Homo sapiens: one gene and its partner. Each later gene encodes a partner of the first gene's protein in a complex. Each region holds a gene or a part of one and is shown in the gene's direction. Other genes may lie near its edges.

Region 1 (15,997 bases):
CCAGCAATCCTCCCGCATCAGCCTCCTGAATAGCTGGGACCACAGGGGCGTGCCACCATGCCTGGCTAACTTTTTTGTAAGCTCACTGCAACCTCCACCTCCAGGGCTCCAGCAGCCCTCCTGCCTCAGCCTCCTGAGTAGCTGGGACCACAGGGGCATGCCACCATGCCCGGCTAACTTTTTTTGTATTTTTTTGTAAGACACAGGGTTTTATCATGTTGCCTAGACTGGTCTTGAACTCCTGGGCTCAAGTGGTCCGCCCACCTCAGTCTCCCAAAGTCTGGGATTATAGGTGTGCACCACTGCACCAAGCCAACTGCCCCAAATGTTCATGTAAGAACAGTGACTCTTGTTCTACAAGGAGAGAAACATGGTCCTGGGCCATTTTTTTAGTGAACACTGTAACTTAACTGCCTTAACTACAGTAAGGGCAGAATAAAGAGGCTGAAATTGGAACACGATAAAGTTAGTTTACAGGCTAGGATAGCTTGTCAACTGTAGGGACTAAGGGCATGTGACCCCATGAAAGATGGGGCTCACACTGCTGGGGTCTCTTGTGGGCATTTCTTTTTTTAAAGAGATGGTGAGCCAGGCGCGCTGGCTCATGCTTGCAATCCCAGCACTTTGGGAGGCCAAGGCGAGGATCACTCAAGGCCAGGAGTTCAATTAACAGCCTGGGTAACACAGTGAGACCTACAGATAATTTAAAAATTATCCAGGCTTGGTGGTGTACATCTGTGGTCCCAGTTACTTAGGATGCTGAGGTGGGAGAATCACTTGAGCCCAGGCGGACGAGGCTGCAGTGAGCCAAGATCGTGCCCCTGCCCTCCAGCCTAGGTGACAGAGCGAGACCCTGTCTCAAAGCATAAAAGAATAAAGTGACGAGGGGGTCTCACTATGTTGCCCAGGCTGGACTTGAACTCCTGGCCTCAAGTGATCCTCCTGCCTCAGCCTCCAGAGTAGCTGGGATTACAGGTGTGTACCACCGTGCCTGGCCTGTGGGCTTTCGTTTTTTGTTTTGTTTTGTTTTGAGACACAGTCTCACTCTGTTGCCCAGGCTGGAGTGCAGTGGTGCGATCTCGGCTCACTGCAACCTCTGCCTCCCGGTTTCAAGTGATTGTCCTGCCTCAGCCTCTCAAGTAGCTGGGACTACAGGCATGCACCACTACGCACAGCTCATTTTTTGTTGTTGTTGTTGTATTTTAGTAGAGATAGGGTTTCACCATATTGGCCAAGCTGGTCTCGAACTCCTGACCTCAAGTGATTCGCCCGTCTCGGGCTCCCAAAGTGCTGGGATTACAGGCGCGAGCCACCACGCCTAGCTTCCTGTGGGCTTTTCTATGCCTCTCTGCCAGATCCTTGTGTCCTCATTACAGGATAGAGGTGTGGTTCTCAACATGTGCTCCCCAGACCAGCAGCACCTGGACTCTCCTTAGAAACTAAACTAAACCACAGGGGTAGGGTCCAGCAATCCAAGTCCTGCCAACAGCAAGTCCACCAGGTGATGCTGAGAACCACTGGTGTGGAGAAATTACCTGGTTATTTGCCATCTCTCCTATGAGACCAGTGATTCTCAAACCCTGACTGCCCATGAGAATCACCTGGAAGCTTTTTAAACAAACAAGTGGTCAGCCTGCACTCGGAGCGATTCTGATTGAAGTGCTCTGCAGTAGAACCCAGCACGTTTTTTTACTTTGTTTTGTAAACTTTCCCAGAAGATACTCATCAGTAGCCAAGGAGAGATTCACTCGAGTCATCTGTCAGCTCCTAGTAGACAGGCAATCCAGTTTCTTTCAAGTTTATGTCCCAAGCACCTAAGGGGCTTAGCCCAGAGGTGCTCAGAGAATATTGGATGAATCCATTAGTGAACCCATCAGTAAATAATGGATCCTGAGTTCAGATTTCTCCAAACATACGATCATTAATTGCACCAAACAAGCCCTCAATGCACACACACACACACACACACCCCTCTGCTTACCTGTAAAATATTCTACTTCTTTCTCCAACTCTTGGAAAATCTCATCTGCCTCAGCTTTGCCAAACAGGACTGTGTAACTGCAGTCCAGGCCCTCAGCCCGAATGTGCCGCCAGCTAGGGCCTGCTGAGTGGCCTCCATTCCCTGGGGCCTCTCTCCTGGGCCTCTTCCTTGTGCTTTCTTTGTCTCCTCCCAACACAGCTGGCTCTTCTCCAGTTGGCTCTTGCTCCTCCTGCTTCCTCAAAAGGCCCCCTTGAGCCCCTTTCACCAGGAATCTGTCCATCCTGTCCCCACAGGAAAGAAGGGACGTCAGTGGCGAGGCCAAGACAGAAATTGCTCAAGTTCTATCCCCAGTGCAAAAATCTGTTTGTCCAAGGGGTCTCACAGCAACATTCCTAGTTTCACATTTTCATTTTAAAGTTTAAAACCATGTCCTAGAAAGGAAACAGAAGATGTTAAAGCCGGAAGGGACCCTAGGGACAATCTGATCCAGGGTCTCCCACGTCCACCTGTGCATCAGAATCAGCTGGCTAGCTTGCAAAAACCCAGAGGTCTGCACTCCACGCCTGAGCACCTGAATTTTTAAAGAACTACCTCCTGGGAATTCGCACGCCACAGCTAAACTTAGAAACTACAATCCAAACCCTCATTTTGCAGAAGGGGAAACTGTTGCCCACAGAGGCGAAGAGGTTTGCCCAAAGTCAACTGTCCACCCCTTTAAGGAGGAAGGACCCATAACTGACCTCGCTGCCCCCCACCAGTGTTAAAATAGATCAGTCTAGTGATGCTCAAGTGGATACGATTCAGAAGCGAGACGCAAAGAGGTTAAACACGGGTAAACCGCACGCAAAATTCTGATATCACTGCAACACGTCCGTGGGGTGGGGGTGGCAAGAGTGCTCTAGCATCGCAGCTCCGGCGCAGATCGGAATCCCGCAGTCACCCTGGTGGCCTCGTGGTGGGAAAGACGCGCCCCAGCGAATCGGTCGCGTCACTTCCGGAGCACGCTGGGAACTACGGCAGGCTAGGGCGCAAAGAGAGCAGCCGGGCGGCCCCCTGGTGCCACCTGCTGGCCTCCCGTGTGTGGCAAGCACTGCCGCTTTCCCGTTGATCACCTGTTGGGCCACTGTCGAGAATCACGGCTGGGGTGAGAACTGTGGCTTGGCGTCACTTCTCAGTGAGGGTTACTTTGGTGTCCGGAAAGGGCGTTGGGCCACCAGTATATTGTCACGAGTGGGAGCAGGAGTTCTGCAGTCGGATATCGTGGATTCTGTTTCTGTCTCCTCCGCCCTGGCTGTGTGGCCTCCCACAGGTCACTTAACCTCTCTGGGGTTAAGTTGCCTCATCTGTGAAGTGCGGACTACAGCACCTATGTCATGAGAGCGCCTGAGGAGATGACAGGATGCATGAGAAATGCTCTGTCCTCTAAATAAATGTTGGTTCCATTATTGCTCGTTTTTCTTTGTTTTCTTGTTTTTTGATGTTGTTCTTGTTTGTTTTGTTTTTTTGAGACAGGATCTCACTCTGTTGCCCAAGCTGGAATGCAATGGCATGATCATAGCTCACTGCAGCCTTGAACTCCTGGGTTAGAGCGATCCTCCCGTCTCAGCCTCTGGAGTAGCTGGGACTACAGGCACATCCCACCCCACCCTAAATAATTTTTTTATTATTTTTAGTAGAGATAGGGCCTTGCTATGTTGCCCAGGCTGGTCTCAAGCTCCTGGGCTCAAGTGATCCTCCCACCTGGGCCTCCCAAATTGTTGGGATTACAGGCGTGAGCCACCACGACCGGCTCCTAATTTTTATTTACTCTGTCTCCCCTCAATGGAACGAAAGCTCCATGAGATCAGAGGCTTTGTTTTGACAGATTTCAACAAATGTACAATATTGTATGATCACCACCACAATCAAGATCTAAGACAGTTCCGTCCCTCCATAAAACTGCTCCAGCCTCTTAATCAACTTCGCCCATCACCCAGCATCAGCAACCACTGATCTGTCTTCTCTCCCTATAGTTTTGCCTTTTCCAGAATTTCATATACAGGGAATTGCCGTGGTTTGAATATCTGTTCCTCCAAAATCCGCGTTGAAATTTAATCCTCAGTGTGGCAGTATTGAGAGGTGGGGCCTTGAAGAGGTGATTGGGACATGAGAGCTCTGTCATAATGTCCTCATAAATGAATTAATAGATTAATGGGCTCAGGGGTTAATGGGTTAATGGGTTACCGTGGGAGTGGGACTGGTGGCTTTATAAAAGGAAGAAGAGAGACCTGAGCTAGCACACTCAGGCCCCTCGCGATGTGATGCCCTACACGGCTTCAGGACTCAACAGAGTCCCCACCAGCAAGAGGGTTTTCACCAGATGCAGCCCCTCAACCTCGGACCTCTCAGCCTCTATGAGAAATGCCTTTGTGGGACTTCTTTCACTTAAGCATATTGCTTTTAAGATTCATTTATGCGCCCCCCCACCTCCCCGCTTTTTTTTGTGAGACAAGGTCTGGCTCTACTGCCTAAGCTGGAGTGCAGTTGCATGATCTCGGCTCACTGCAACCTCCACTTCCCAGGCTCCACTCCCACCTCAGCCTCCCAAGTAGCTGGGACTACAGGCATGCACCACTACACCCGGCTAATTTTTGTATTTTTTGTAGAGATGGGTTTTTGCCATGTTGCCCAGGCTGGTCTCCATAGTCTTCAGCTGGTGAGCTGAAGAAATCCGCCTGCCTTGGCCTCCCAAAGTGCTGGAATTGCAGTCATGAGCCGCTGTGCCCAGTCGTATATGCACATTTGTATTACTTATTTGTTCCTTTTTATTACTGGTATAGAAGGGATGCCCCACAGGAGTAGGCCCCACATAGGGTTGTTTCTCTGATTTTAGGTTACTATGAGTAAAATCACTATAAACATTCACATACAAGCTTTGTGAATATAGTTTTTCATTTCCCTTGGGTAAATAATGCCTAGGTGTGGGAGTGCTGGGTCATAGTGGCTCTAAGGGCAAATGATTTTCAGCTTTGAGCCTCTCTCCCTTAGACTTCAGCTTCTTGTCCTAGGCACTGGGACACACCAGCAACAAGAAGCAGCAAGTTCCTTTCTTCACTCAGGTTACATTTCGGGGATGGAGACAGAAACACACAAGGAAAGAATAAATAATATGCTGTCTCTAAAGAAATTGTGTAAAAAGAAAAAATAAATAAGATGCTTTTGTATAGTATAGCAGTTATAGAGCAATGGGCTAGAAAGTGGGGCAGGAGGAGAAGTCCTTTTCAGGGAAAGATCCTGAGCTGAGACCTGAGGCTTTCCAGGCAAGGGGACGGTGAATGCAAGGGTGTGCAGGCCACAGGGGGACAAGCTGGGTGTGTCCAGCAATTGTGCTGGGAGCTGGACTCAGTAGTGGGGGCTTCCATCAGAGAGGAGGCAGCACTGAGACCTGGGTAGGAAGCTGGGGTTTATTCTAAGCCTTTTTGAAAACCAAAGAAGGGTTTTAACCTAAGGATTGTCTTTTTTTTCTTTTTCTTTTTTTTGTTTGTAGACAGGGTCTTGCTCTGTCACCCAGGCTGGAGTGCAGTGGCACAATCTCAGCTCACTGCAACCTCCGCCTCCCGGGTTCAAGTGATTCTCCTGCCTCAGCCTCCTGAGTAGCTGGGATTGCAAATGCATGCCACCACGCCTGGCTAATTTTTGTATTTTTAGTAGAGACGGGGTTTCACCATGTTTGCCAGGCTGGTCTCGAACTCCTGTGCTCAAGCGATACGCCCCTCCTTGGCCTCCCAAAGTGTTGGGATTACAGGCGTGAGCCACCGAGCTGGGCCAGGCCCCAGGTATTGTCATGATGTAAAAATCTCTCTCTAGAAAAGAGAACACCAGCTTCCCAGCTGGTCTTCTGTAGCTAGGAGATGCAAGAGCAGCAGTTGAATTTGAGGTTTGCTTTGGAGAAAGAACCAAAAGCAGATATGGATGGTTTGGATGTGAGGGAGGGAAAGAGAATCCTAAGTGTATTAGTAGTGGTGGGAGGAGGTTCGGTACAGTGGTGTCATTTGGAAGACAAATCGTTGGTGTTTAACCTCTATGACCCGAAAGTCTCCCACAAGCCTGATACATTAGGCAAAATGTTTGACTGCACTAAGCCTTAGTTTATCGTCATAAAATAGGCCATGAAAATTGCGTGAGAAAATGTATATAACAGTTCAACAAATAATATTGGCTGGGTGTGGTGGCTCATGCCTGTAATCCCAGCACTTTGGGAGGCCAAGGTGGGCAGATCGCCTGAGGTCAGGAGTTCGAGACCAGACTGGCCAACATGGTGAGATCCCCCATCTCTACTAAAAAAATACAAAACACACTTGGGCAAACATGGTGAAACCCCATTTCTACTAAAAATAGAAAAATTAGCCAGGCGTGGTGGCGCGCGCCTATAATCCTAGCTGAGGCACGAGAATCGCTTGAATCCGGGAGGCGGAGGTTGCAGTGGGCTGAGATCACACCACTGCATTCCAGCCTGGGCGACAGAGCAAGACTCTGTCTCAAAAACAAAATACACACACAAAATATAATAGTATTTGTTTGTTTGTTTGTTTTTGAGATGCCTCGGATTACAGTGCGGGGATTACAGACGTGAGCCATCAAGCCCGGACAATATTATTATATTGTTCATTGCACTCCCACAACACCCCTAAGGGGCAGGAACTTTTCTTCCCAGCCCCCTCCCCCCGACCCCACCGAGAGACAGGGTCTCGCTCTGTCGCCCAGGCCTGGAGTGCATTGGCGCGATCAAAGCTCACTACAGCTCAGACCCTCTGGCCTCAAGCGATCCTCCAGCCTGGGCCTCCCAAAGCGCTAGGATTACAGGCGTGGGCCACCGCGCCTGACCAGTCTTCTCTTCTTGCAGCTGAGCCTTAAGAGCCTGTCCAAAGAGCAGAGGTGGGCTGAAGGCACAAAGCGAATGAAAGAATAGGCCCCCGGGCACCGTTGCACGCCCCACCTCCTCCCAGGGGCGTTGCACTCCAGCCCCTCCCGCACATGCGCACTGGGCCTTCCACCGCCCCCCGCCCCCAGCAAAGCCCCCCGCTCGGAGCATGCGCGGGCCGCTTGGCGCCAATTGCTGACCGCCACAGCCACAGCCAGGGCTAGCCTCGCCGGTTCCCGGGTGGCGCGCGTTCGCTGCCTCCTCAGCTCCAGGATGATCGGCCAGAAGACGCTCTACTCCTTTTTCTCCCCCAGCCCCGCCAGGAAGCGACACGCCCCCAGCCCCGAGCCGGCCGTCCAGGGGACCGGCGTGGCTGGGGTGCCTGAGGAAAGCGGAGATGCGGCGGTGAGGCGCGGCTTGGGCCGGGGCTAGGGGGTGAAGGGGGAGGAAGGCGGTGGGCCCCGCCTGACGGAGGGCGTGCAGGATCGCGCCTCTGACTCGGTAAACCCGGGCTCCGCTTTCCAAATAGCCTCCACGTGTTCAAAATAGCCGCCGCTGTCCCCCATGGGCCGCCATGCTAAAGGGCCAGCCAATGGGAACGCGTCTCGGGGCCCATGGCGCCAATCCGCGCGCCGCAGGCCCTCCTGGCTCGGTGCGCTGTCCAATCAGAGGGGAGAGGGGGCGGGACCCAGAGGGAGGTTTTTTGCCGCGAAAAGACCACGTGGGGACGCGGTGGGGCGGGTCTGGCGGGGGCGGGGCACCTCTGTGCAGGGTTCCCAGTCACCGCGACGCTCCTCGGGAAGCCATAGGGCGCCTCCCAGCCCGTCTCCCCGCTCCAGTTTAGAACCTAATTCCCAATTCCCGGACCGGGCCCAGCCCTGGGCTCTTACTGTCCGCTTTTGCTGGGACCTGTTCCACAAATGGGCGTCTTCTGCCTTGGGCCGTGGGGGTTGGGCCGGAAGCTGCGGACGCCTGGGAAGGGGCCGCTGCAGCTCTTGAGCCGCCTCTGCGGGGACCACTTGCAGGCCATCCCAGCCAAGAAGGCCCCGGCTGGGCAGGAGGAGCCTGGGACGCCGCCCTCCTCGCCGCTGAGTGCCGAGCAGTTGGACCGGATCCAGAGGAACAAGGCCGCGGCCCTGCTCAGACTCGCGGCCCGCAACGTGCCCGTGGGCTTTGGAGAGAGCTGGAAGAAGCACCTCAGCGGGGAGTTCGGGAAACCGTATTTTATCAAGGTAAATATGGAAATGCACCTTCCATAAGGGTAAATGTGGAGGCTGCCGGCCCTTTTGTCTTGTTAGTGTAGCCGGCCAAGTTCATGTTTCCGTAGGCTTAGGTTGTACCCCCTTCAACCTCCTTTACTCACAAAGGGGGTAAAAGAAAGCCATGATGTTTCACTCTGCAGCTTTATATTGGTTAAAGTTGTTAACGACCCGCGAGATGATATCATGGATTCATTTAAGTCACATAGTCTATTGTCCAGGAAAGGCTGGCGTAGTAAAATCACCAACCATCCTGAATGAAACCTGGCTTGAGCTTTAAAAAGCCGAGAGGAGTGGCACTGTCAGGACCCAGCCCAGAGAAAGAGGCAAGGAATTGACCTGATTGAACCACTTAGGTGGGGGGGCAGGCACTGTTTTTGTTTGTTGTTTTTTAAAAGAATTTGGACATAACATGACAAAGAACTAATGATGTTCCAAATAACTTGCACTAGAAGCTTTCTTATTGAATTCTTATGGTTTCCAATGAGAATCTGATTTTAAGTCTAGTTTATCTTTAAATCAGCTAATGGGATTTGTTGCAGAAGAAAGAAAGCATTACACTGTTTATCCACCCCCACACCAAGTCTTCACCTGGACCCAGATGTGTGACATAAAAGATGTAAGTACAACTTGTTGATAATTTTTATTGGGGAGAAGGAGTCAAATAGTATTTTTAAATTAGGGACACTGGAGTTAAGCCACAGTCCATCATTCAGTAGTAAATAAAACACTGAAATCCCGAGGTTTGGCTGACTGTATTTCAGCCTGTATTTACTCTTTTTAATGTTTACCACGTGGTATTTATGTGGCAAAAAGGAAAACTATGTACATCCTGTGCTCTTATTTCTTGTATTTTTTTTAAATCCTGAAACTAACCTCCCGCGGTGTCAGATGTTATGGTGGTGGTGAAGTTCAAACTGACACACAAAGCAGTTAAATCTTTTGCAGCTTGTTATAGTCAACCCCACCTTGACCTGACCACACTGCCTTATAGTTAGCACTTTCAAGCTCTTGACTTCTGGCCTGAACAGTTTTGTGGTTCTGTTATCAGATCCCTTTGCTTTAGTTTGTCTTATATAACAGTTGCTGGTTGGCGGCTCTCATCCATCTTGTGTTCAGAAGTTCGTGGGGCTGGGCACGGTGGCTCATGCCTGTAATCCCAGCACTTTCGGAGGCCAAAGTGGGAGGATCATTTGAGGTCAGGAGTTCAAGACCAATGAAACCTGGTCTCTCCTAAAATACAAAAATTAGCCGGGCATGGTGGCGCACGCCTGTAATTCCAGCTACTTGGGAGGCTGAGGTGGGAGAATCGCATGAGCCCAGGAGGCGGAGGTTGCAGTGAGCTGAGATCACACCACTTCACTCCAGCGTGGGCGACAGAGCCAGACCCTGTCTCAAAACAAAAAAAAAACCGTGGCTTCTCACTGTTGAACTATGAAAGCAGAGCAACCCTCTTTAAATAGGGCCACGTCCTACCTCTCAGCCTTACCTCCACCTCCCACTCTCCCACTCCAGAGTTGGACAGTGTGGCAAACCCCTCCCCACTTCTGTCTCTTAAAAATCAAGTAGATGCCTCTGTGGCACCTCCTTGAATTGAAGTCCGTTGCCTGCCACCTCTGTGATCCAGTTTTCCTCTGAGCTGCTACGATGCATTTAGCACCTGCTGACACTGGACTTTTAGGTTTCTTACCCGTTTTCCTCCCCCGTTTTGTAAACTGGGGCAAGAATCTTGTGATTTAATGAATATCTGTGAAATGACATAGAAGTGAAATAGGTGAATAAATCATCTTGATAAGGCAGCCACACCTAATACTTAGAAAATCTCGTAAGCTTAATTTTAGAGTAAGAATTTAGAATCTAGCTCTTTGGTTTTGAAGCTAAATTAAATCCTATTAAGATCAATACTAATTTGCTTCTTGTTTGAATGCCCTATTCTGAATACCAGTAATCAGTATAAACAGGGAATATTAAAAGGAATATTTTGAGGGAATGCTCAAAAACCAGTTTCAAACCTATGAGGATCAGATGGGCCAGCAGGGCTTCTTGACAGACCAGCATTGGGAGAGTTGTTTCACAAGAGAATATGTTGGCATGGTGTGAACACCAAGGGGAGGGACAAGAGGTCCCCAAAAGCCTCCTGGTCATGGAACATCTGGAGCTGGATTCTGAAAGATAGAGTATGTCAGCTGTGGAGGAAGATTCTAAGAACGCAATGGCAGAAGCTTGAGAATGAAGACTAGGTGGGTGGGCCCTGGATGGGAAGGACGAGGCGGCCTATGTTTCAACACCTCCCGTGACAGGAACTTCATTTCATTTCATTGTCTCTTGCCACCTACTCCCATGGCCCTTTTGATCTGACCTCATTCTCTTCTGGCTCCACCTGTTAGAGGATATAGGGGAGCAGACACCCTCATATGCTGCTGGTGGGAAATCTGAATTGCTTTTTTTTTTTTTTTTTTTTTTTTTTTTTGAGATGGAGTGCAGTGGTGCAATCTCGGCTTACTGCAACCTCCACCCCCTGGGTTCAAGCGATTCTCCTGCCTCAGCCTCCCGAGTAGCTGGGACTACAGGTGTGCGCCACCACACCCAGCTAATTTTTGTATTTTTAGTAGAGATGGGGTTTCACCATGTTGGCCAGATGGTTTCGATATCTTGACCTCGTGATCTGCCTACCTCGGCCTCCCAAAGTGCTGGGATTACAGGCGTGAGCCACCATGCCAGGCCCTAAATTGCTTTAATTCATCGAAAAGTAACTGGGGGCTAGGCACAGTGGCTCATGCCTGTAATCCCAGCATTTTGGGAGGCCGAGGAGGGAGGATCCCTTGATCTCAGGAATTTGAGACCAGCCTCAGCAACATAAGGGAGGCCGTGTGTCTACAAAAAGTAAAAAAAAAATTAGGTGGGCATAGTGGTGCACTCCTGTGGGCCCAGCTACTCTGGAGGCTCAGGTGGGAGGACCACTTGAGCCCAGGAGGGCGAGGCTGCCATGAGCTGTGATGGCACCACTGCACATCAGCCTGAGCAACACAGCAAAACCGTGTCTCAAAAAATTAAAAAAGCAGCTAGGTACATATCTTTACAAGTTTAAAATACGCTTAGCCTTTGACCAGCAACTCTGCTATTAGCAATCTATGCCATAGAAGTGTTTTATTTGTTTTGTTTATGTTTGTTTGAGGCAGGGTCTGTGCTGCTTACATTACAGTATTGTTTAATTCCTGACCCCTGGTGGTTCACAGGTGAAGGTTGTCATCCTGGGACAGGATCCATATCATGGACCTAATCAAGCTCACGGGCTCTGCTTTAGTGTTCAAAGGCCTGTTCCGCCTCCGCCCAGGTACAGTTGCTTTACAGGTGACTGCAGTCCAGACATGATTCCTTTCAGATGTGTACTTAGCTTATTACAAGTGGGACTATCTGGGGCACTGTTCACTAGCCTTGGAGGAGGATTTCTCGGCCTCAGCACCATTGACATTTGGGGCTGAGTCATTCTTTGTTGTGGAGGAGGAGAGGAGTCCTGTGCTATTGCAGGATCTTGTGCCACATCCCTGGCCTCTACCACTGGAAACCAGGAGCAACCCCCAGCTCGTGATAATGAAAAATGTGCAGACATTGCCAAAAGTCCCTTGGGGGCGTAAAATCACCCCTGGTTAAGAACCACTGCTTTGGGCCGGGCGCGGTGACTCACGCCTGTAATCCCAGCACTTTGGGAGGCTGAGGCAGGAGAATCGCTGGATCCCGGGAGGCGGAGGTGGCAGTGAGCCGAGATCCTGCTACTGCACTCTAGCCTGGGTGACACAGCAAGACTGGAAAAAAAAAAAAAAGAACCACTGCTTTTGGAGGATTTGGTGTATGATATACATAAATATGCTAAGGACAGAAAACTGTCCCTGAGCAACAGTGGGGGTCTGGGTTGTAACTGCTGGGTTGATTTACTTAGGTTTTCCAGAGTGCTGTTAAATCCAAGTACAGACTAAAGTAAAGGTCTTTGGCAGAGTCACCTGTTAGAAGGAGGACTGGCAGTGTTGATCTCATTAATCGGCGCCATATGTGCCAGTGTCCCTTCCAAGGGCTGGCTGTAACTTCTAACCTTTTCACATATGTCTTAGACGTTACTGAGCTTTCAAAATTATGCTTAAGATTCTGTTTTTTGTTTTTCTTGTGGCTTGCTTTCAGTTTGGAGAACATTTATAAAGAGTTGTCTACAGACATAGAGGATTTTGTTCATCCTGGCCATGGAGATTTATCTGGGTGGGCCAAGCAAGGTAAGCCAGCGACTGCTAGATTTTTTTTTTTTTTTTTTTTTTGAGACCGAGTCTCACTCTGTTGCCCAGGCTAGAGTGCAGTGGTGCAATCTCAGCTTACTGCAACCTCTGCCTCCCAGGTTCAGGCGATTCTCATGCCTCAGCCTCCTGAGTAGCTGGGACCACAGGCATGAGCCACCATAGCTGGCTAATTTTTTAATGTATTTTTAGTAGAGACAGGGTTTCACCATGTTGGCCAGGCTGGTCTCGAACTCCTGACCTCAGGTGATCCGCCCGACTCGGCTTCCCAAAGTGCTGGGATTACAGGCATAAGCCACCACGCCCAGCCCCGACTCCATTGTTGATGGTAGTGGCTGCTGCCATTATGCCGGCTGCAGCAGGGAAGCACAGCTTGCTACACTGGATCCCATCAAGCATTGGTTTCATCATGGATTTAGCTCCTGTTGCTGGGTATTGGGCTGATTTGCCTGAGCCTACATTTAACCTGTTTCTCTCATGTGTATAGGTGTTCTCCTTCTCAACGCTGTCCTCACGGTTCGTGCCCATCAAGCCAACTCTCATAAGGAGCGAGGCTGGGAGCAGTTCACTGATGCAGTTGTGTCCTGGCTAAATCAGAACTCGAATGGCCTTGTTTTCTTGCTCTGGGGCTCTTATGCTCAGAAGAAGGGCAGTGCCATTGATAGGGTATGTTTTGTTTTCTTTCTTTTTTTTCTTTTTTTTTTAACACTATAAAAACAATGTAAAGAATTCTAGGAGTCCCTGCTGTGTTTGGTCCTGGAAAATCCATGTTATAAAATAACTTTTATTTTCCCTTAGGCCTGTTATAAGGGTTTCCCATTGAAAACTGAGAAGAATTTGGACAAATTATAGGGGTGATGAGTTGTGTATGAGGAAAGCAAAGCAACTGGCCAACTTGTGACTGAATGCAGTTGGTGCTGTAGGCATGAACTTGGTGTCTACAAGATACAAGTCCCTGGGTACCATTCACTTAACAAGTGATGGATGAGGCATGTTTCTGGCTTCCAAGAAATTTGGGAACATATAGAAAACACAAAGAATTCCACTCAATCACAAATTTAACTTGCCCATGAAAATACTATCAGTGATCATTATTGTTTTGTTTCTGGGTTTTTTGTTTTTTGATGGAGTCTCGCTCTGTTGCCCAGGCTGTAGTGCAGTGGTATGATTTTGGCTCACTGCAACCTCCGCCTGCTGGGTTTAAGTGATTCTGCCTCAGCCTCCCGAGTAGCTGGGACTACAGGCGCCCGCCACCACACCCGGCTGATTTTTTTTTATTTTTTAGTAGAGACAGGGTTTCACCATGTTGGCCAGGCTGGTTTTGAACTCCTGACCTCAAGCGATCTGTCCTCCTCAACCTCCAAAGTGCTAGGATTACAGGCATGAGCCACCACACCCGGCCTATCGGTGATCATTATTAACCCCAAGGTCTAATTGCAGATACCCAACACGACCAAACCAGTGGCTCCCCTCCCTACATCTTCCCCCTATCTGCTACCTCCCTCTTTCCCTTCACTCACTGAAGCACTTCTACACCTGGTTGTGGAAATCAGAGACCTAAAAGTCATCCTTGAATCCTCCATCCCATCAGTAAATCCCATCAACTCTGCCTCCCAAAACACCCCAGTCTACTGCTTCTCATTCGCCACTGCTGCCCTTCAGGCATGAGTCACCATCATCTTTCTCCAGGAGAACCGTGATGGACTAGAGATGGAGGCTTGATGGAGAGCCGCAGAGTGGAGGAGGGAGAGATAGGGGGTGGGAAGGAGACGAGCCAGGGGTGTGTTCATCCCTGGCAAATGGGAGAGACATTGGGTGGGGGAGAAATTATAGAGTAAATGCTTCAATGATCGAAGGCAAGGGCTTAGCAGAGGTAACCTGACAATAGTTTTTGGTGTATCAGCAGGAGGTAACGGGGGTATCAGAAATGTGCACGTATATTTAACCCCTACCTTGTGTGGGTACTAGGTTGAGCACTTTTGTTTTTTGAGATGGAGTCTTTCTGTCACCCAGGCTGGAGTGCAGTGGCATGATCTCGGCTCACTGCAACTTCGCCTCCTGGGTTCAAGCACTTCTCCTGCCTCAGCCTCCTGAGTAGCTAGGATTACAGTTGCCTGCCACCACACCCAGCTAATATTTTTTATTTTTAGTAGAGACTGGGTTTCACCATGTTGACAAGGCTGGTCTTGAACTCCTGACCTCAAGCGATCCTCCCATCTTGGTCTCCCAAAGTGCTAGGATTACAGATGTAAGCCACCGCACCCGACCAGGTTGAGTACTTTGCATGCAGAATCTTACTTAACTCTCAGAAAGGCTTTGAGGTAGGCATACACTTGTATGAGTGACCTAAGATCTGACTGGTATGAACTGCTAAGATGTGATCATCTAGGTATGTAAGAAGTGTGCGTGAGAGTAATTGCTAATCTCTATCCCTTAGGGAGGTTTACGGCCAGTGTTGCTCTTCCGCAGTATATTGGTAATCTTTAATCATGGTTTGGTCTGAAAGTAAACAGTTGTTAAAGTAGCTTGGTCATTAAAGCCAAATTGCATATCTCCAGCCCAGTGTCTCTTCTGATCTATAGAGTGCCTTGTTACTACTGCCCCATGAACATGCCAAATTCAACATTTTCCAAACGAAGTTTCTCCTTTTCTCATCCATGCTTCACTAAACTTCCTCCTCTGCACTCCCTAGCAGCAAAAAGCACCATCATCTGCCCAGTTGTCCAGCCAGATCTATTACTGACACCTGCCTACCTCTCTTTCTCCCCTCTTCTGTCCTTTTTTTCCACCTTCCCAGTCAGTCAGTCATTCATATCTGTGTTCTTTCTTCCCCCTCCAAATCTACCCCTGCCTGACCACCTTTGCCTTCATTCAGGCCCTCACCTGATCTTGCCTGGAGGGTTCTGATGCTTTCTCCCTGGAAGGCCTTGCCTTAGGCTGAAGATCTGATTTCAGGGGGGTAGAGGGGTGGCCCCCAATCGGCCTCCCAGACTTAACTCTATCCCTCTTTGCACTCCGATCCCTAGGCTGACCCATTCCCCTTTACTTTTTCACGGTGCCCCACTTCCCTGCCTTTGCATATCCTGCTTTCTCTGCCTACAGTGTAGAGGTCATTTTCTTCTGGGATTCTTTAGAGCTCTGCAGGGCTGACATTTACAGGGGCCTGTGCTGCTTGCGTGTGTGTTCAGCATTTGGTGTGCATGACTTCTTATCACACTCAGCCCCTGTGATCCTCATTTGATTGGTCACAGTAACTTCATAAGCTGGGCGGTATTGTTATTCCCAGTCTACAGATGAAAACTGAAGCAGCTTAGAGTTGCAGCAACTTCTCTGTGGTACAGCTACTGAGGGTAGAGGTAGGCCTCGACCCCGGGCAGTCTGGCTCCAGGCTCTGTACTCTTAACCACACTGGATTGCCTGGCTTTAGTCCTCACCCCTCATCGCCCCTCCTGGACTGAGCCCCTTGAAGGCAAGAGTGTTTTGAGAAACAGTGATTTGTTCGTTAGTTTTTATATACAGAAAAGAAGAGGAAAACAAAAATGGTCTATATCTCCCTGTTAAAATAACTATAGTTGAT
Region 2 (15,890 bases), on another chromosome or scaffold:
TAACTGGCATTGTGACTTCAGGAAAGCATCTTGAAGGCTGTGGCCCTTGGTTTTTCTCATCTGATGATACTGGTAGTACTCATGTCACGGGGTGGTTCTGAGAATTGATGAGTAAGGCAATGTGTAGGAAAACAATCTATAGAAAGCTGTCTAAATGTTTAGTCACTCTGAAATGAGTTTGCCTTTTTTTTTGAGACAGGGTCTCTGCCAGGCTGGAGAGCAGTGGTGTGTGATCACAGCTCACTGCAGCTTGGACCTCCATGCCTCAAGTGATCATTCCCACCTCAGCCTCTCTAGCAGCTGGTACTACCTATGTTCACTGCGGTGTCAGGCTAATTTTTGTGTTTTTTTTTTTTTTTAGAGGTGGCATTTGGCCATGTTGGCTAGGCTGGTCTCAGGCTCCTAGCCTCAAGCAATCCACCCACCTCAGCCTCCCAAAGTGCTGAGATTACAGGTGTGAGCCACCATTCCCAGCTGAGTTTGCATTTAACAACTGCAATTTCATTTTATAAATGTGAGGTTAATTTGACTTCTCTTTAGGAATCACTCAGATATGTTAAGATTCAGTGTAAGCAAGTTAAAAAACTCAATGATATTCTGGTATATTTGGACATTGCTTTATAACTTTCTTTCTTTTTTTTTTTGAGACAGAGTCTCACTCTGTCGCCCAGGCTGGAGTGTAGTGACACAATCTGGGCTCACTGCAACCTCTGCCTCCCGGCTTCACGCCATTCTCCTGCCTCAGCCTCCCGAGTAACTGGGACTACAGGCGCCCGCCACCACACCCGGCTAGTTTTTTGTATTTTTTTAGTAGAGACAGGGTTGTACCATGTTGGCCAAGATGGTCTTGATCTCCTGACCTCGTGATCTGCCCGCCTCGGCCTCCCAAAGTGCTGGGATTACAGGTGTGAGCCACCGTGCCCGGCCGCTTTATAACTTTCATATAAATTATTTTATGTAATTCTGTAAGGAATTTATTGTTTATTCCAGCATACTAACAGAGACTCAGGTATATTAAGGGACTGCCTAAGCTTACATAGCTAGTAAGGAACTAGAATCAGACAGTACGCACATGATGCTGAACAAATCCAACATCTGATGAGCAGCAACTTCTCCCTGTTGTAGTTTTCTCTTTCCTAGAAGATCTCAAGGGACTTTAATTCTCTATTCTGATTTTCTTGAGGTTGTGAAGGAGAAAACAAGGTAGATGATTGGTTCTCATCTTTTCTTCCCAAGCTTAACTATTTTTCTCCATTCTGGTTATTATAATTTTTATCTCAGAATTCCTAAAAGCTGGGTATTAAGATAGCTTTTCAGAGAATAATGCTTGTAAGTTGGAGACTCAATCCCAGTCTCTGAATTTTTTTTTCTTTTTGTGGAGACAGGGTGTCACTATGTTGCCCAGGCTGGTCTCAAACTCTTGGGCTAAAGCAGTCCTCCCACCCTTGCCTCCCGTGGTGCTGGTATTACAGGCATGAGCCACCACACCCGGACAGTCTTTTTGTTTTTATTTTTATTTTTTTTTTGAGACAGTCTCTCTGTTGCCCAGGCCAGAGTGCAGTGGAACAATCTCAGCTCACTGCAACCTCCACCTCCTGGGTTCAAGCGATTCTCCTGCCTCAGCCTCCCGAGTAGCTGTGACTACAGGCGCATGCCACCATTCCTGGCCAATTTTTGTATTTTCAGTGGAGACGGGGTTTTGCCACGTTGGTCAGGCTGGTCTCAAACTCCTGACGTCAGGCGATCTGCTCTTCTTGGCCTCCCAAAGTGTTGGGATTACAGGTATGAGCCACTGCGCCTGGCCTTGTTTTGTTTTTAAATCTAGTATTTTCCACAGTTAAAAGTTAGGTAAACGCCCTATTCTTTTTTTCTTTTAAAATTGAGACCGTCTCACTTTCACCCCCGCTGGAGTGCAGTGGTGCAGTCATAGCTTACCACAGACTCTTAACTCCAGGGGTCAAGGGATCCTCCCATCTCAGCCTCCCAAGTAGCTAGGATTACAGGTGTGCAGCACCATCCCTGGGTGATAAAGAACTCTATCCAAAATGTTTCCTGTTGATTATGTATTTGTTCAATATGATTGAACCATGTGAAGTTTCAAATAGCGACCCAATTTTAATCTGTAATAATGGTACTTTCCTGAAGTACTGTCAGAGTAGTCTGTGGTTCATAGTCAGCTATGAAAATTTTTTTAGTTTGAAAGTGTTTTTGTTTTTGTTTTTCCAAAATTAAGCATATTTTTATTGACACTTTGTGAACCTCTTTGGAGCAGACTAGGAATTCCTTGTGATCAATTCCTACATAAAATATATGCTCAATAAAAAATAAATACTTGATTTGAGATGAATTTGAAGGCATTGTTAACATCTCAACTGTTACCTATATGTAACATTTTTACCTGAGAGGTAATAATATTTGTCAAACATCTACTACATGTAGAGATTGGTATTAGCACTTCATATATGTTATGTGTCTCATTTACAACTTAAGAGGTGTATATCCCCAGTTTTCAGAAAAGGTGGTCATGTGTCCAGGACTTTGGAGCTGGGATTTGAGCATGGGTCTACAGGACTCTCTGGCTCCAAACCTCATGTTCTTGCCACTTTACCTTACTGGTTCTTAAGTTTTCTTATGCTGAAGATACAATGAAAATCTCAGCTGTGATAGGTAAAAACAGAAATATAGTAGTTTGTGAGAGGTAAATCCTGGGACCCCTGCAAATTTTAAGACTATAAATATTAACATAGCATGTAACTTTACCTATAAAATACCATAAAGTAAAATTGAAAAAGTTGATCCTGTCAACGTTGTTATTAAAAGCTATTGCAAATGTAAAGAATGAGGAACAATAGCTAATATAATAATAGCTAAAATTTGTTATTGAGTGCTTTGTGCTGGGTAGTATTCTGAGTCCTTTACCATGTAATTTTTATAATATCATTCCTAGTTTTGCAGATGAGGAAACCGAGGTACAAATGAGTTAATACATGTGACCAAGAGCGACCGCTCTTTTTTTTTTTTCTCTTTTTGAGGAGAGTCTCTGTTGCCCAGGCTGGAGTGCAATGGTATGATCTCGGCTCACTGCAACCTCCGCCTCCCGAGTTCAAGTGATTCTCCTGCCTCAGCCTCCCCAGTAGCTGGGATTACAGGCATGCGCCACCACACCTGGCTAATTTTTTTTTTAAATTTTTAGTAGAAATGGGGTTTCGCCATGTTGGCCAGGCTTGATCTCAAACTCCTGACCTCAAATGATCTGCCCGCCTCGGCCTTGGGATTACAGGCGTTACCCACCACGCCTGGCCAAGCAGCTGCTCTTGAGAATAGAGCCACAATCTTAACCCTCAAGCTTGGCTGCTGCCTTTTGTGGCATATGTGCCAGCGGTTGACTGAGCTTGCTTTATCCTGTTGTGGCAATACTCACCATTCACAATCATGCTTCAGCAAAATGAAATATTGGCAGTGTCGTGGATGTTCAGGTCAGAGTTGCGACTGCTAAATCCATGAAGGCCAAGAGTCTACTGTGTTCTAAGTCTTCCATGTAGTACAGGTATTGGTCCACTTCCTCTTGGCTTCTGACAGGAAGAGCTCTCATCGTTTTTGTGCCTTGTACATATTCCCTCTAGGAGACTGGGAGTACATACTTGCCCTCAGCCTGTTACCTGCTACTTTTTCGCTGTTGAAATTCTCGTGCTTCAGAGTTCAGCCTAAAGCCTCCCTCTTTTGCCAGTAAGCTTTTCTGAGGTCCCACATGGCATGTTTCATTTTACAGTGTATCAAGATCAGGTTTATTGTTTACCTTTGTACCTCCCCTAGATTAGGAATATGTTGAGGGTAAATCCTGTCCCATCATATTCATCTTCATGTTACCCAGACTACCTCTTGCCACTGGTAGGCAAAAATAAGTTTACACTGTTGTCTGGCTGCTTTAAGATATGATTTGGGCCTGGCGCGGTGGCTCACGCCTATAATCCCAACACTTTGAGAGGCCGAGGTGGGCAGATTGCCTGAGGTCAGGTGTTCGAGACCAGCCTGGCTAACATGGCAAAACCCCATCTCTAGAAAAAAATAGAAAAATTAGCTGGGCATGGTGGCGTGCACCTATAATCCCAGCTACTCGGGGGGGCTGAGACAGGAGAATTGCTTGAACCCAGGAGATTGAGGTTGTAGTGAGCTGAGATCGCGCCACCACACTCCAGCCTAGGCAACAGAGTGAGACTCCATCTCAAAAAAAAAGATATAATTTGAGTGTGCTCACTAGATACTGTTCTGCCTACCCTATCCTGCCTCTTCCCCCTAAGACGTCCAACATGAGTCCAGCACAGTGGTTTATGTGTGTCATCCTAACACTGGGAGGCTAAGGTCGGAGGATCACTTGAGACCAAGAGTTTAAGACCAGCCTGGGCAACATAGCAAAACCCCATCTCTACAAAAAAAAAAATGTTTTTTTAATTGACTGGATGTGGTGGTGTGCCTGTAGTCCCAGCTACTCAGGAGACTATAGCAGGAAGATTGCTTGAGCCCATGAGTTTGAGGCTGCAGTGAGCTGTAATGCCACTGCACTCCAGCCTGAGTGACAGAACAAGACCCCATCTCAAAACAAAATTTGGCCGAGGGCAGTGGTTCACACCTGTAATCCCAGCACTTTGGGAGGCTGAGGTGGGCAGATCACCTGAGGTCAAGAGTTCCAGACCAGCCTGGCCAACATGGTGAAACCCCATCTCTACTAAAAATGCAAAATGCTGGCACATATAGTCCCAGCTACTCAGGAGGCTGAGCCAGGAGAATCGCTTGAGCCCGGGAGACGGAGGTTGCAGTGAGCTGAGATCACGCCATTGCATGCCAGCCTGGACAACAGGAGCGAAACTCTGTCTCAAAGAAAAAAAATTTAAAAAGATGTCCAACATGGCCAAGCTCTTACTCCATTTCCCCAGGAGCTCCATTTGATAGTCAAAAAATCTGTCCTACAAGAAGCTATTCTTCTACCTTTTACAGTTCATCACAAGACCTACAAGCAATTCCAAAGTCCTGTCTCCATTAGTCATTTCTCAAACCTTTTCCCAATACCATCTCATTTTGTCAGTGACCTGAACAGCAGCACCAGCCTGTCTACACCCTAAAGCTGGGGTTTCCTCTTGAAGGTCTGTTCTGGCAGCAGCAGGTCATTCTTCCTTATCCTGTCCCCCACTCTGACCTATTCATTTTGGTGAATTCTCAGAGCAACATGTGTATCTATTCAGCAGGAGCTCTGGAGTTAGACAAACCTGGGTTTGGATTCTAAAAGTGTGGTATTGGTTTGCTATATGACCTTGGTTTCCATCTCTCTGAAGCAAGGATAATGAGATTTGTTTTGAAATTCAATGTTCTAATATATTTAAAGTACTTGGCACATGGCAGGTGTTGAATGAGTGGTAGTTATTACTTTCTTAATTGAATTTTGCATGTTTTTTCTTTTCAGAGAGCCCGAGCCCAGCACATTGTGCCCTGTACTATATCTCAGCTGCTTTCTGCCACTTTGGTTGATGAAGTGTTCAGAATTGGGAATGTTGAGATTTCACAGGTATGTCAAATAATTTGTGAAAGAATCACTTACTCATAATAAAGAATGAAATAAGACTTCATTAAAAAATACAAAAATGTAGCCTTGGTTTCAGGGGGAACCAGACCTTTTTTTTTTTTCTTTGTTTCTTCTAACCTAGGTCACTATTGTGGGGATCATCAGACATGCAGAGAAGGCTCCAACCAACATTGTTTACAAAATAGATGACATGACAGCTGCACCCATGGACGTTCGCCAGTGGGTTGACACAGATGTAAGTGGCTGTTTTTGAATCATGATGGGGTTACTTTGGAACTGTGGAGATGTTGAACTTTTTTAGTCTTTTTAAAGTTTTTTCTTATAAAAATAATACAAAAAGACATCAAAGACAGATACTCTAAAGTAAAAGGTTAGTAGATTTGACTATATACCTTCCCAATATACCAAAAACAGAATTAAAAGTCAAATGACAGGAGACAGTAGAATGTTAAGTTCCATTAGAACAAAGTTTTTTTTGAGACAGAGTCTCACTCTGTCGCCCAGGCAGTGCAGTGGTGGAATCTCGGCTCACTACAACGTCCGCATCCCGGGCTCAAGCGATCCTGTGCCTCAGCCTCCCAAGTAGCTGGGATTACAGGCACCTGCCACCACGCCCGGCTAATTTTTGTATTTTTACTAGAGATGGGGTTTCACCATCTTGGTCAGGCTGGTCTTGAACTCCTGACCTTGTGATCCACCTACCTTGGCCTCCCAAAGTGCTGGGATTATTACAGGCTTGAGCCACCACACCCAGCCCCTGCTTTTTTGTTTGTTTGTTTGTTTGGTTTTTTTTTTTGAGACAGAATCTTGTGCTGTCACCCAGGCTGGAGTGCAATGGCGCAATCTCAGCTCATTGCAGCCTCTGGGCCCCAGGTTCAAGCAGTTCTCCTGCCTCAGCCTCCCAAGTAGCTGGGATTACAGGCACCCGCCACCACACCTAATTTTTTGTATTTTTAGTAGAGATGGGGTTTTGCCATGTTGGCCAGGCTAGTCTCAAACTCCTGACCTCAGGTGATCCACCCTCCTCAGCCTCTCAAAGTGATTGGATTACAGGCATGAGCCCTCACGCCCGGCCTAGAACAAAGATTTTTATCTTGGTCACCGCTGTAGCCTTAGCACCTAGAGCAGTGCTAGTCACATAGTGGTCCTGGAATAAGTATTGTTTAAATGAATGTGGAAAATATTTGCAACATATTACAAACATTTAAATTTTTAATTAATATAAAGCTCCTTTTTGGCTTGGCATGGTGGCTCACGCCTGTAATCCCAGCACTTTGGGAGGCCGAGGTGGGCGGATCACGAGGTCAGGAGATCAAGACCATCCTGGCTAACACGGTAAAACCCTGTCTCTACTAAAAATACAAAACATTAGCCGGGTGTGGTGGCAGGCGCCTGTAGTCCCAGCTCCTCGGGAGGCTGAGGCAGGAGAATGGCATGAAGCTGGGAGGCGGAGCTTGCAGTGAGCCAAGATTGCGCCTCAAAACAAAAAAAGACAAACAGTGGTGACCTAGCAGAACTCCACAGCTTAGGAGTTTACATCAAGGAAAGAATTAAAGACAGGTACAAAGATTTAGGCCAGTGAAGTGGCTCACGCCTGTAATCGCAACACTTTAGGAAGCCAAGGCAGGCAGATCACCTGAGGTCAGGAGTTCGAATCCAGCCTGGCCAACAGGTGAAACTCCGTCTCCTAAAAATACAAAAATTAGCCGGGCGTGGTTCTGCGCACCTATAATCCCAGCTACTCAGGAGGCTGAGGCAGGAGAATTGCTTGAACCTGGGAGGCAGAGGTTGCAGTGAGCCGAGATCATGCCACTGCACTCCAGCCTGGGCGACAGAGCAAGACTCTGTCTCAAAATGAATAAATAAAAATAAAGCAATCTCAAAATACTAGCAATAAAGGATTATTAAGTAAACCATGACACATTTATAACATACTACAAATGATACAGAAAAGCGTGTATTGCCACAAAGAAGTGTTTGCCATAAATTGTTGAGAAAAGCATATTACAATGTGGTATGCAGGATTTGACCCAATTTTTACAAAGCAGCATATATATAAGTGTCTTTATAAACATGGATAAAATAGACTGAAATACAGTATATACTTTTTATCCTTTTATTTTTCAATTGTGCAGAAGGCCTCTTGGTGTTTTGTATTTTGTTTTTGAAATACATTCATTACAGAAAATTTGGATAATAAAGACTGTTTTAGGCTGGGCATGGTGACTCACGCCCGTAATCCCAGCACTTTGGGAGGCCAATGCTGGCGGGTCACCTGAAGTCAGAAGTTTGAAACCAGCCTGGCCAACGTGATGAAACTCCATCTCTACTAATGATACAAAAATGAGCTGGGTGCCTGTAATCCCAGCTACCCAGAAGCTGAGACAGAAAAATTGATTGAACCTAGGAGACAGAGGTTGCAGTGAGCCAAGATTGCGCCACTGCACTCCAGCAGATTGCGCACTGCTCTGTTGCTCTGGGCAACAGAGCAAGACTGACTCAAAAAAAAAAATGCGGTTCTCCTTCAAAAACCACAAGTTATCTATAGAGAAATAACTTGGTAGTTATGTAATTTTTAAATTTTTTCCTTCTCAGAAAAATAAAGGATAATTCATTCAGCAGTTATTGTTGGAGTACCAATTCTGAACTAGACTGTGCTTGGTTCCAGGTATAAAAAGAATGAGGTAGACACAGTCCCTGCCATCAAGCAGGGAGGTAGATACTATGGATACCTAATACTACTTGTTCATATAAAATGCACTATGCTTGCTTATAAACCATTTAAAAAATCACCTGACATCTCATGTCTCTTAAAGAACTACTATTACGACACATTTTGGAAAATACCCTTTCAGACATCTGTCTCTGCATATATGTACATACAGGTGTCCACATACCTCTTTTACTGTAGAAGGGATAATATGCTATGCAACTGCTAAGTAATTTGCTCTTTTCACTCAAAATTATGTTGTGGAACTGATTTTTTTTTTTTTTTTTGAGATGGAGCTGTGCTCTTGTTGCCCAGGCTGGAGTGCAATGGCGCGATCTCCAGCTCACCACAACCTCCGCCTCCCAGGTTCAAGCAATTCTCCTGCCTCAGCCTCCAGAGTAGCTGGGATTACAGGCATGTGCCACCACACCTGGTTAATTTTGTATTTTTATTAGAGACAGGGTTTCTCTGTATTGGTCAGGGTGGTCTCGAACTCCCAACCTCAGGTGATCCACCTGCCTTGGCCTCCCAAAGTGCTGGGATTATAGGCATGAGCCATTGGCCTTTTTTTTTTTTTTTTTTTTTTTTAAATAGAGACAGGGTCTTGGCTTGCTGCCTAGGCTGGCCTCAAACCTGGGCTCAAGTGATCCTTTGGCCTTAACCTCCCAAGTAGCTGGAACTATAGGCTGATGCCACCGTGCCTGGTGAGGAGCTGATTTTTTTTTTTTTTTTTGAGACTGAGCTTCACTCGTGTTATCCGGGCTGGAGTGCATTGGTGCAATCTTGGCTCGCTGCAACCTCTGCTTCTCGGGTTCAAGCGATTCTCCTGCCTCAGCCTCTCGAGTAGTTGGGACTATAGGCGTGCACCACCACACCCAACTGATTTTTGTATTTTTAGTAGAGACGGGGTTTCAACATGTTGGCCAGGCTGGTCTCGAACTTTTGACCTCAGGTGATCCTGCCTCAGCCTCCCAAAGTGCTGGGATTACAGGCTTGAGCCACCATGGCCCAGCCAAGAACTGATTTTTTAATGTTATCTGTAAAGATTTACATCTATCATTTTAAATGACCACCGATTCCATTATAAGAATACATCATCCCTTACTTAACAGTGGACCCAGTCAGGGAACAACATTTAACTTCTTTTCAGTCGTTTGCTATTATATACAATGCTCCAGTGAGTATCTTTGCATACATTTCTTCATGATTATAAAATAATCGTAAGGCCAGGCGTCGTGGCTCACGCCTGTAATTCCAGCACTTTGGGAGGCCAAGGCAGGTGGATCACCTGATGTCAGGAGTTCAAGACCGGCACCGCCAACATGGTGAAACCCCATCTCTACTAAAAATACAAAATTAGCTGGGCGTGGTGGCACACACCTATAATACCAGCTACTCGGGAGGCTGAGTCAGGAGAATCAGTTGAAGCTGGGAGGCAGAGACTGCAGTGAGCCAAGATCGTGCCATTGCATTCAGCCTGGGCAACAAGAGCAAAACTCCATCTCAAAAAAATAAAATAATCATAAGATGTATTCCTAAAAGTAGGTTTTCTGGGGGGAAATACACATTTGACATTTTTTTAACATCTTAGTTTTTGCATTTTTGTACTGTCTTCTCTAAAGGTACCAGTTTACGCTTCAGTCATGCATGAGAGTGCCCAGTTAGTTTCCATACCCTTAACATTTTTTTTTTTAAGAAATAGGCTGGTCTCAAACTCCTGGGTTTAAGCAATCCTCCCACCTCAGCCTCCCAAAGTGCTGGGATTACAGGTGTGAGCCTCTGTGCCTATCCTCCATACCCTTTATAACAATGGGTTTTTGTCTTAAATTTTTGCCAGTGTGATAGTTGTTTTAAAAAATAGTCTTTTTGACTAGGTGCGGTGGCTCATGCCTGTAATCCCAGGACTTTGGGGAGGCCAAGATGAGTGGATCACCTGAGGTCAGGAGTTTGAGACCAGCCTGGCCAACATGGTATAACCCAGTCTCTACTAAAAATAAAAAAATTAGTCTGGCATGGTGGTGCACGCCTGTAGTCCCAGCTACTCGGGAGGCTGAGGCACAAGACTCGCTTGAACCCAGGAGGCAGAGGTTACAGTAAGCGGAGATCTTCACACCAGTGCACTCCAGCCTGGGCAACAGAGCAAGACTGTCTCAAAAAAAAAAAAAAGTATACGTAAAAATAATAAAAAAAATTAAAAAATTAGCAGGGCATGGTAGCACGTGCCTGTAGTCCCAGCTATTCGGGAGGCTGAGGCAGGAGAATTGCTTGAGCCTGGGAGATGGAGGTTGCAGTGAGTCAAGATTGCGTCACTGCCCTCTAGCCTGGGCATCAGAGCAATATTCCATCTCAGAAAAAAATAGTCTTTTCAGTGAAAATTTTGTCATTTTTTTATGTGTATTTCTTTGGTTTTAGCCATATATATGTATTTTTTTTTTTACTATGTTTAATGTCAATTTGTGGGGTTTTTGTAAATTTTCTCTTTGATTCCCCTTCCCCTAACAGTGTTTTTGTTTGCAAGAACTTGAAAATGATTATAGTGACCTCTTATAATGAGGCCAGGCACAGTGGCTCACACCTGTAACTTTAGCACTTCAGGAGACTTAGGCAGGAAGATCACTTGAGGCCAGAATTTCAAGACCAGCCTGGGCAGCATGGGAAGACCCTATCTCAAAAAGAAATAATTTTGAAAAATAAATTGTGCAGTTTTTTCTAGTTTACCTTTCGGAAGCTTCTACTAGTCCCAAAGTTTGTTTTTTTTGTTTGTTTGTTTTAGTTAAAAAATACTTTATGGTGGCTGGGCGCGGTGGCTCACGTCTATAATCCCAGCACTTTGGGAGGCCGAGGCGGGAGGGTCACCTGAGGTCAGGAGTTCAAGACCAGCCTGGCCAATGTGGTGAAGCCCTGTCTACTAAAAATACAAAAATTAGCCAGGTGTGGTTGTGGGCACCTGTAATGCCAGCTACTTGGGAGGCTGAGGCAGGAGAATCGCTTGAACCCAGGAGGTGGAGGTTGCAGTGAGCTGAGATCGCGCCATTGCACTCCAGCCTGGGCAACAGGAGCGAAACTGTCTCTCAAAAAAAGAAGAAAAAAAAAAACTTTATGGCTAACAAATTGTAATAATCAGTTATCCGAACCCTCAGCAATTCATAATGTTTTTGCTAGTGGACATTCTTGCCTCACTGTTGATGGCTGCTGACTGAGGAGGGTGGTAGTTGGCTGAAGGTTGAGCTGGCTGTGGCAATTTCTTGAAATAAGACAACAAAGTTTGCCTGAGTAACTGAGTCTCCTTTTCACATAAAATTTCTCGATATTATATCATGCTGTTTGATAGCATTTTACTTACAGTATAACTTCTTTCAAAATTGGATTCAATCTCAAACCCTGCTACTGCTTTCTCAACTAAACTTATGGAGTAGTCTAAATCCTTTATTGTCGTTTTAACAATGTTCACAGCATCTTCACTAGGAGGAGATTCCATCTCAAGAAACCAGTTTATTTGCTCATCCATGAGAAGCAACTCCTTTGAGAGGCCCAGGCGGCCAGATAGATCATTTGAGGTCAGGAGTTTGAGACCACCCTGGCCAGCATGGTGAAACCTCGTCTCTACTAAAAATAAAAAATTTAGCTGGGCATGGTGGTACATGCCTGTAATCCTGGCTACTCGGGAGGGTGAGGCAGGAGAATCACTTGAACCTGAGAGATGGAGGTTGCAGTGAGCCAAAATTGTGCCACTGCCCTCCAGCCTGGGTAACAGAGTGAGGCTCAGTCTCAAAAAAAAGGAAGCAACTCCTCATCCACTCAAGTTTTACCATAAAGTTACAGCAATTCAGTTATATCTTTAAGCTCCATTTCTAATTCCAGTTCTCCTGCTATTTCCACCACATCTGCTGTTACTTGCCCCACTGAAGGTGGAGGTAGCAGTGAGCCCAGATTGTGCCATTGCACTCCAGCCTGGGTGACAGAGCGAGACCTTATCTCAAAAAAAAAAAAAAAATCTTAAGCAGCCACCCAATATATACTTCAGATTAAAAAAGAGCTGTTGGCCAGGTGCGGTGGCTCATGCGTGTAATCTCAGCACTTTGGGAGACTGAGGCAGGTGGATCACTTGAGGCCAGGAGTTTGACACCAGCCTGGCCAATAAGGTAAAACCCCGTCTCTACTAAAAATGCAAAAACTAGCCGGGCACAGTGGTGCATGCCTGTAATCCCAGCTACTCAGGAGGCTGAGGCAGGAGAATCACTTGAACCCGGGAGGCACAGGCTGCAGTGAGCCGAGATCCCACCATTGTAATCCGTCCTGGATGATAAAACGAGACCTTATCAAAAAACCAAATAAATAAATCTCAGCTGGGTTCGGTGGCTGACGCCTGTAATCCCAACACTTTGGGAGGCGGAGGCGGGTGGATCACCTGAAGTCAGGAGTTCAAGACTAGCCTGGTCAATGTGGCAAAACCCTGTCTATTAAAAATACAAAAGCCGGGCACCGTGGCTCACGCCTGTAATCCCAGCACTTTGGGAGGCCGAGGCGGGCGGATCACGAGGTCAGGAGATCGAGACCATCCTGGTTAACAGGGTGAAACCTTGTCTCTACTAAAAATACAAAAAATTAGCCGGGCGTGGTGGCGGGCGCCTGTAGTCCCAGCTACTAGGGAGGCTGAGGCAGGAGAATGGTGTGAACCCATAAGGCGGAGCTTGCAGTGAGCTGAGATCCCACCACTGCACTCCAGCCTGGGCGACAGAGCGAGACTCTGTCTCAAAAAAAAAGAAAAAAATTGTTCATATTATTTCTATGGTTTCTTTTATTATAATTAAACCTATGATCTACATGGAATATATTTTGATAAAAGGAGTTGAGGTAGAGATCTTTTCTCAAGTGGATTCAAAATGTTGTATATGGGAATACAATTGTTTTGTTTGTGTGGTTTTTTTTTTTTTTTTTTCTTTTTTTTTTTGAGATAGAGTCCTGCTCTGTTGCCCAGCCTGGAGTGCAGTGGCACAGTCTCTCACTGCAACCTCTGCCTCCTGGGTTCAAGTGATTCTCCTGCCTCAGCCTCCCGAGTAGCTGGGACTACAGGCACCCACCACCACACCTGGCTAATCTTTGCATTTTTAGTAGAGACAGGGTTTCCCTGTTAGCCAGGCTGGTCTCGAACTCCTGACCTCGTGATCCGCCCGCCTCAGCCTCCCAAAGAGCTGGGATTACAGGCGTGAGCCACTGTGCCCACCCTTTTTTTTGTATTATTAACAGAGGCAGGGTTTCACCACGTTGGCCAGGCTGGTCTCGAACTCCTAACCTCAAGTGACTTGCTCGCCTTGGCCTCCCAAAATGCTAGGATTACAGGCATGAGTCACTGCACCTGGCCAGAGTTTTTATTTTTAAGCATATATTTTCTAGTTTTTTGTTTGTTTTTAGAGACGAGGTCTCACTATGTTGCCCAGGCTGGTTTCAAACTCCTGAGCTCGAAGGATCCTCCTGCCTTGTCCTCCTAAAGTGCTAGGATAACAGGTGTGAGTCCATATACCCCGATATATTTTCAATTTTTTTTAAAGTAATACATTTTATGTAGTCAGAAAAGAACTTTAAAAATCAGCTAATGGGCCGGACACGATGGCTCAAGCCTGTAATCCCAGCACTTTGGGAGGCCGCGACGGGTGGATCATGAGGTCAGGAGATCGAGACCATCCTGGCCAACATGGGGAAACCCCGTCTCTACTAAAGATACAAAAAAAATACAAAAAAATTAACCAGGTGTGGTGGCAGGCGCCTATAGTCCCAGCTATTTGGGAGGCTGAGGCAGGAGAATCACTTAAACTTGTGAGGCAGAGGTTGCAATGAGCCGAGATCATGCCGCTCCACTCCAGTCTGGGTGACAGAGCAAGACACTTCGTCTCAAAAAAAAAAAAAAAAATCAGCTAATGTATTTTTCTTATAAATAATGTGTGCATATTCTAGGAAACTGATAAGTATTAAAATCGTTTTTAATTATCTTAGTCAACCATTATAAACAGTTTAGTGTGTATTGTCCCAAATGGGAAATCAGCTTTTTTCCATGTATCATGACTTGTTTTTCCAGGCAGTAAATAGAATTCTATGTTATCATTTGCAACAGTGTGGAGTATCCTATTATATAGAAATGTGTACTTTATGTTGGATATTTAGGTTGTTTTAAAATTTTTAATATTCTATACTATGATAAATCTAAATCTTAATGCATGTTCTTAATTACTTCCTTAAATTCCTAAAAGTAGAATTGCTTTGCCAATAAGTATATCCACCAGAAAATTGTGTGCCTGCCGGGCGTGGTGGCGGGCGCCTGTAATCCCAGCTACTGGGGAAGTTGAGGCAGGAGAATTACTCAAACCCTCCCTTGGGAGGCGGAGGTTGCAGCGAGCCAAGATCGTGCCACTGCACTCCAGCCTGGGTGACAGAGCGAGACTCCCTCTCAAAAAAAGAAAAAAGAAAATTGTGTGCCTAAGAGCTTGAACGAGAGTGTCACAATTGTTTGCTTTTTTATGATGTGCTACAGAACTTTGGAACTGATAATTACCTTTAGAGATATTTTTATTCTAATTCCTGGTTTTACAAAATAAGTTGTAAAAGGCAGGGCAAACTACTTAATGCCATTTTAGGATCCTTTAACTCTTCTACTTCGTAACTTTCTCTTTCTATACATAATATAGAAACGTTAAAGAGGCTTTTACCAGCATCACTAAAACTTTAATGACATGTTTGTATTTTATGTTAGGACACCAGCAGTGAAAACACTGTGGTTCCTCCAGAAACATATGTGAAAGTGGCAGGCCACCTGAGATCTTTTCAGGTAAAGTCAGAATAAAATAACAGTTAAAGTGTTTTTGCATGAAGCAGTTTCTAGATTCATGTCATGGCTTTTGGATAGTTAAAATACTTAAGTCTCCCTGTTTAATGGGAAGTTATTTCTTACTCTCTTCAAAAGGAAATAACTTTTCTTTTTTTTTTTTTTAACCTTAACATGAAATTAACAGAATGGTAAAGAAAGAACAGAATCTCCTTCTACAATTGCTATCTGTGGCGTTCATTAGTTGGAGAAAGGAGAACACTAGATTCGGAGTCAGGAGTCTAGATTTTGCTTGGTTATGCAATCTTGGGAAAATTATTAATGTCCCTTAGCTATTAGTTTTAGTTTTTTTTCTCCTCATGTTTGACCATATTTGGAATACCTCTGAGAGTATATAACATTTTTCTCATATTGGTGAAATATTAATATTATAACCAAGGAAAGAGCCACAGTGTTGACCTGAAATTAATGTATGTTCATATTTTATTCACATTTTTTTCCTTCATTTTAATAGAACAAAAAGAGCCTGGTAGCCTTTAAGATCATGCCCCTGGAGGATATGAATGAGTTCACCACACATATTCTGGAAGTGATCAATGCACACATGGTACTAAGCAAAGCCAACAGCCAGGTGAGTAGTCTCGCTTTCCTAGCTTTTTCTCTTCCCTGGAAGAACACAGGCTACTTTTGTGTTCCAGCTTTGATTTCCTTGATATTTTGAAGGCCGAGCCAGAGAAAGACATCACTAAGTCCTCAGAACACTTTCTCCATTAGCTTTGTCATTGTAT

Evidence for each region.
Region 2: the proteins of UNG (region 1) and RPA2 are in contact, whole or in part, in an NMR structure (PDB 1DPU), measured with the Homo sapiens proteins. Residues at the interface, in NP_550433.1 of Homo sapiens: Arg73 (codon at 7,991), Ile74 (codon at 7,994), Asn77 (codon at 8,003), Lys78 (codon at 8,006), Ala81 (codon at 8,015), Leu82 (codon at 8,018), Arg84 (codon at 8,024), Leu85 (codon at 8,027), Arg88 (codon at 8,036); in NP_002937.1 of Homo sapiens: Ser250, Asn251, Glu252, Gly253, His254, Ile255, Tyr256, Ser257, Thr258, Val259, Asp260, Asp261, Thr267.

Annotation. Positions count from the first base shown.
Region 1 is NC_000012.12:109,090,526-109,106,522, forward strand, and holds the start of UNG (uracil-DNA glycosylase), read left to right. Parts: upstream 1-7,071; 5' UTR 7,072-7,154; coding exon 7,155-7,286; intron 7,287-7,646; exon of another isoform or gene 7,647-7,801; coding exon of another isoform or gene 7,802-7,906; coding exon 7,907-8,113; intron 8,114-8,663; coding exon 8,664-8,759; intron 8,760-11,376; coding exon 11,377-11,474; intron 11,475-12,313; coding exon 12,314-12,402; intron 12,403-12,907; coding exon 12,908-13,086; intron 13,087-15,997. Other genes in the region: DNA oxidative demethylase ALKBH2, read right to left, coding at 1,982-2,261. UniProt on the Homo sapiens protein: Uracil-DNA glycosylase that hydrolyzes the N-glycosidic bond between uracil and deoxyribose in single- and double-stranded DNA (ssDNA and dsDNA) to release a free uracil residue and form an abasic (apurinic/apyrimidinic; AP) site.
Region 2 is NC_000001.11:27,896,848-27,912,737, reverse strand, and holds part of RPA2 (replication protein A 32 kDa subunit), read left to right. Parts: intron 1-5,455; coding exon 5,456-5,557; intron 5,558-5,696; coding exon 5,697-5,810; intron 5,811-15,030; coding exon 15,031-15,105; intron 15,106-15,616; coding exon 15,617-15,733; intron 15,734-15,890. UniProt on the Homo sapiens protein: As part of the heterotrimeric replication protein A complex (RPA/RP-A), binds and stabilizes single-stranded DNA intermediates that form during DNA replication or upon DNA stress.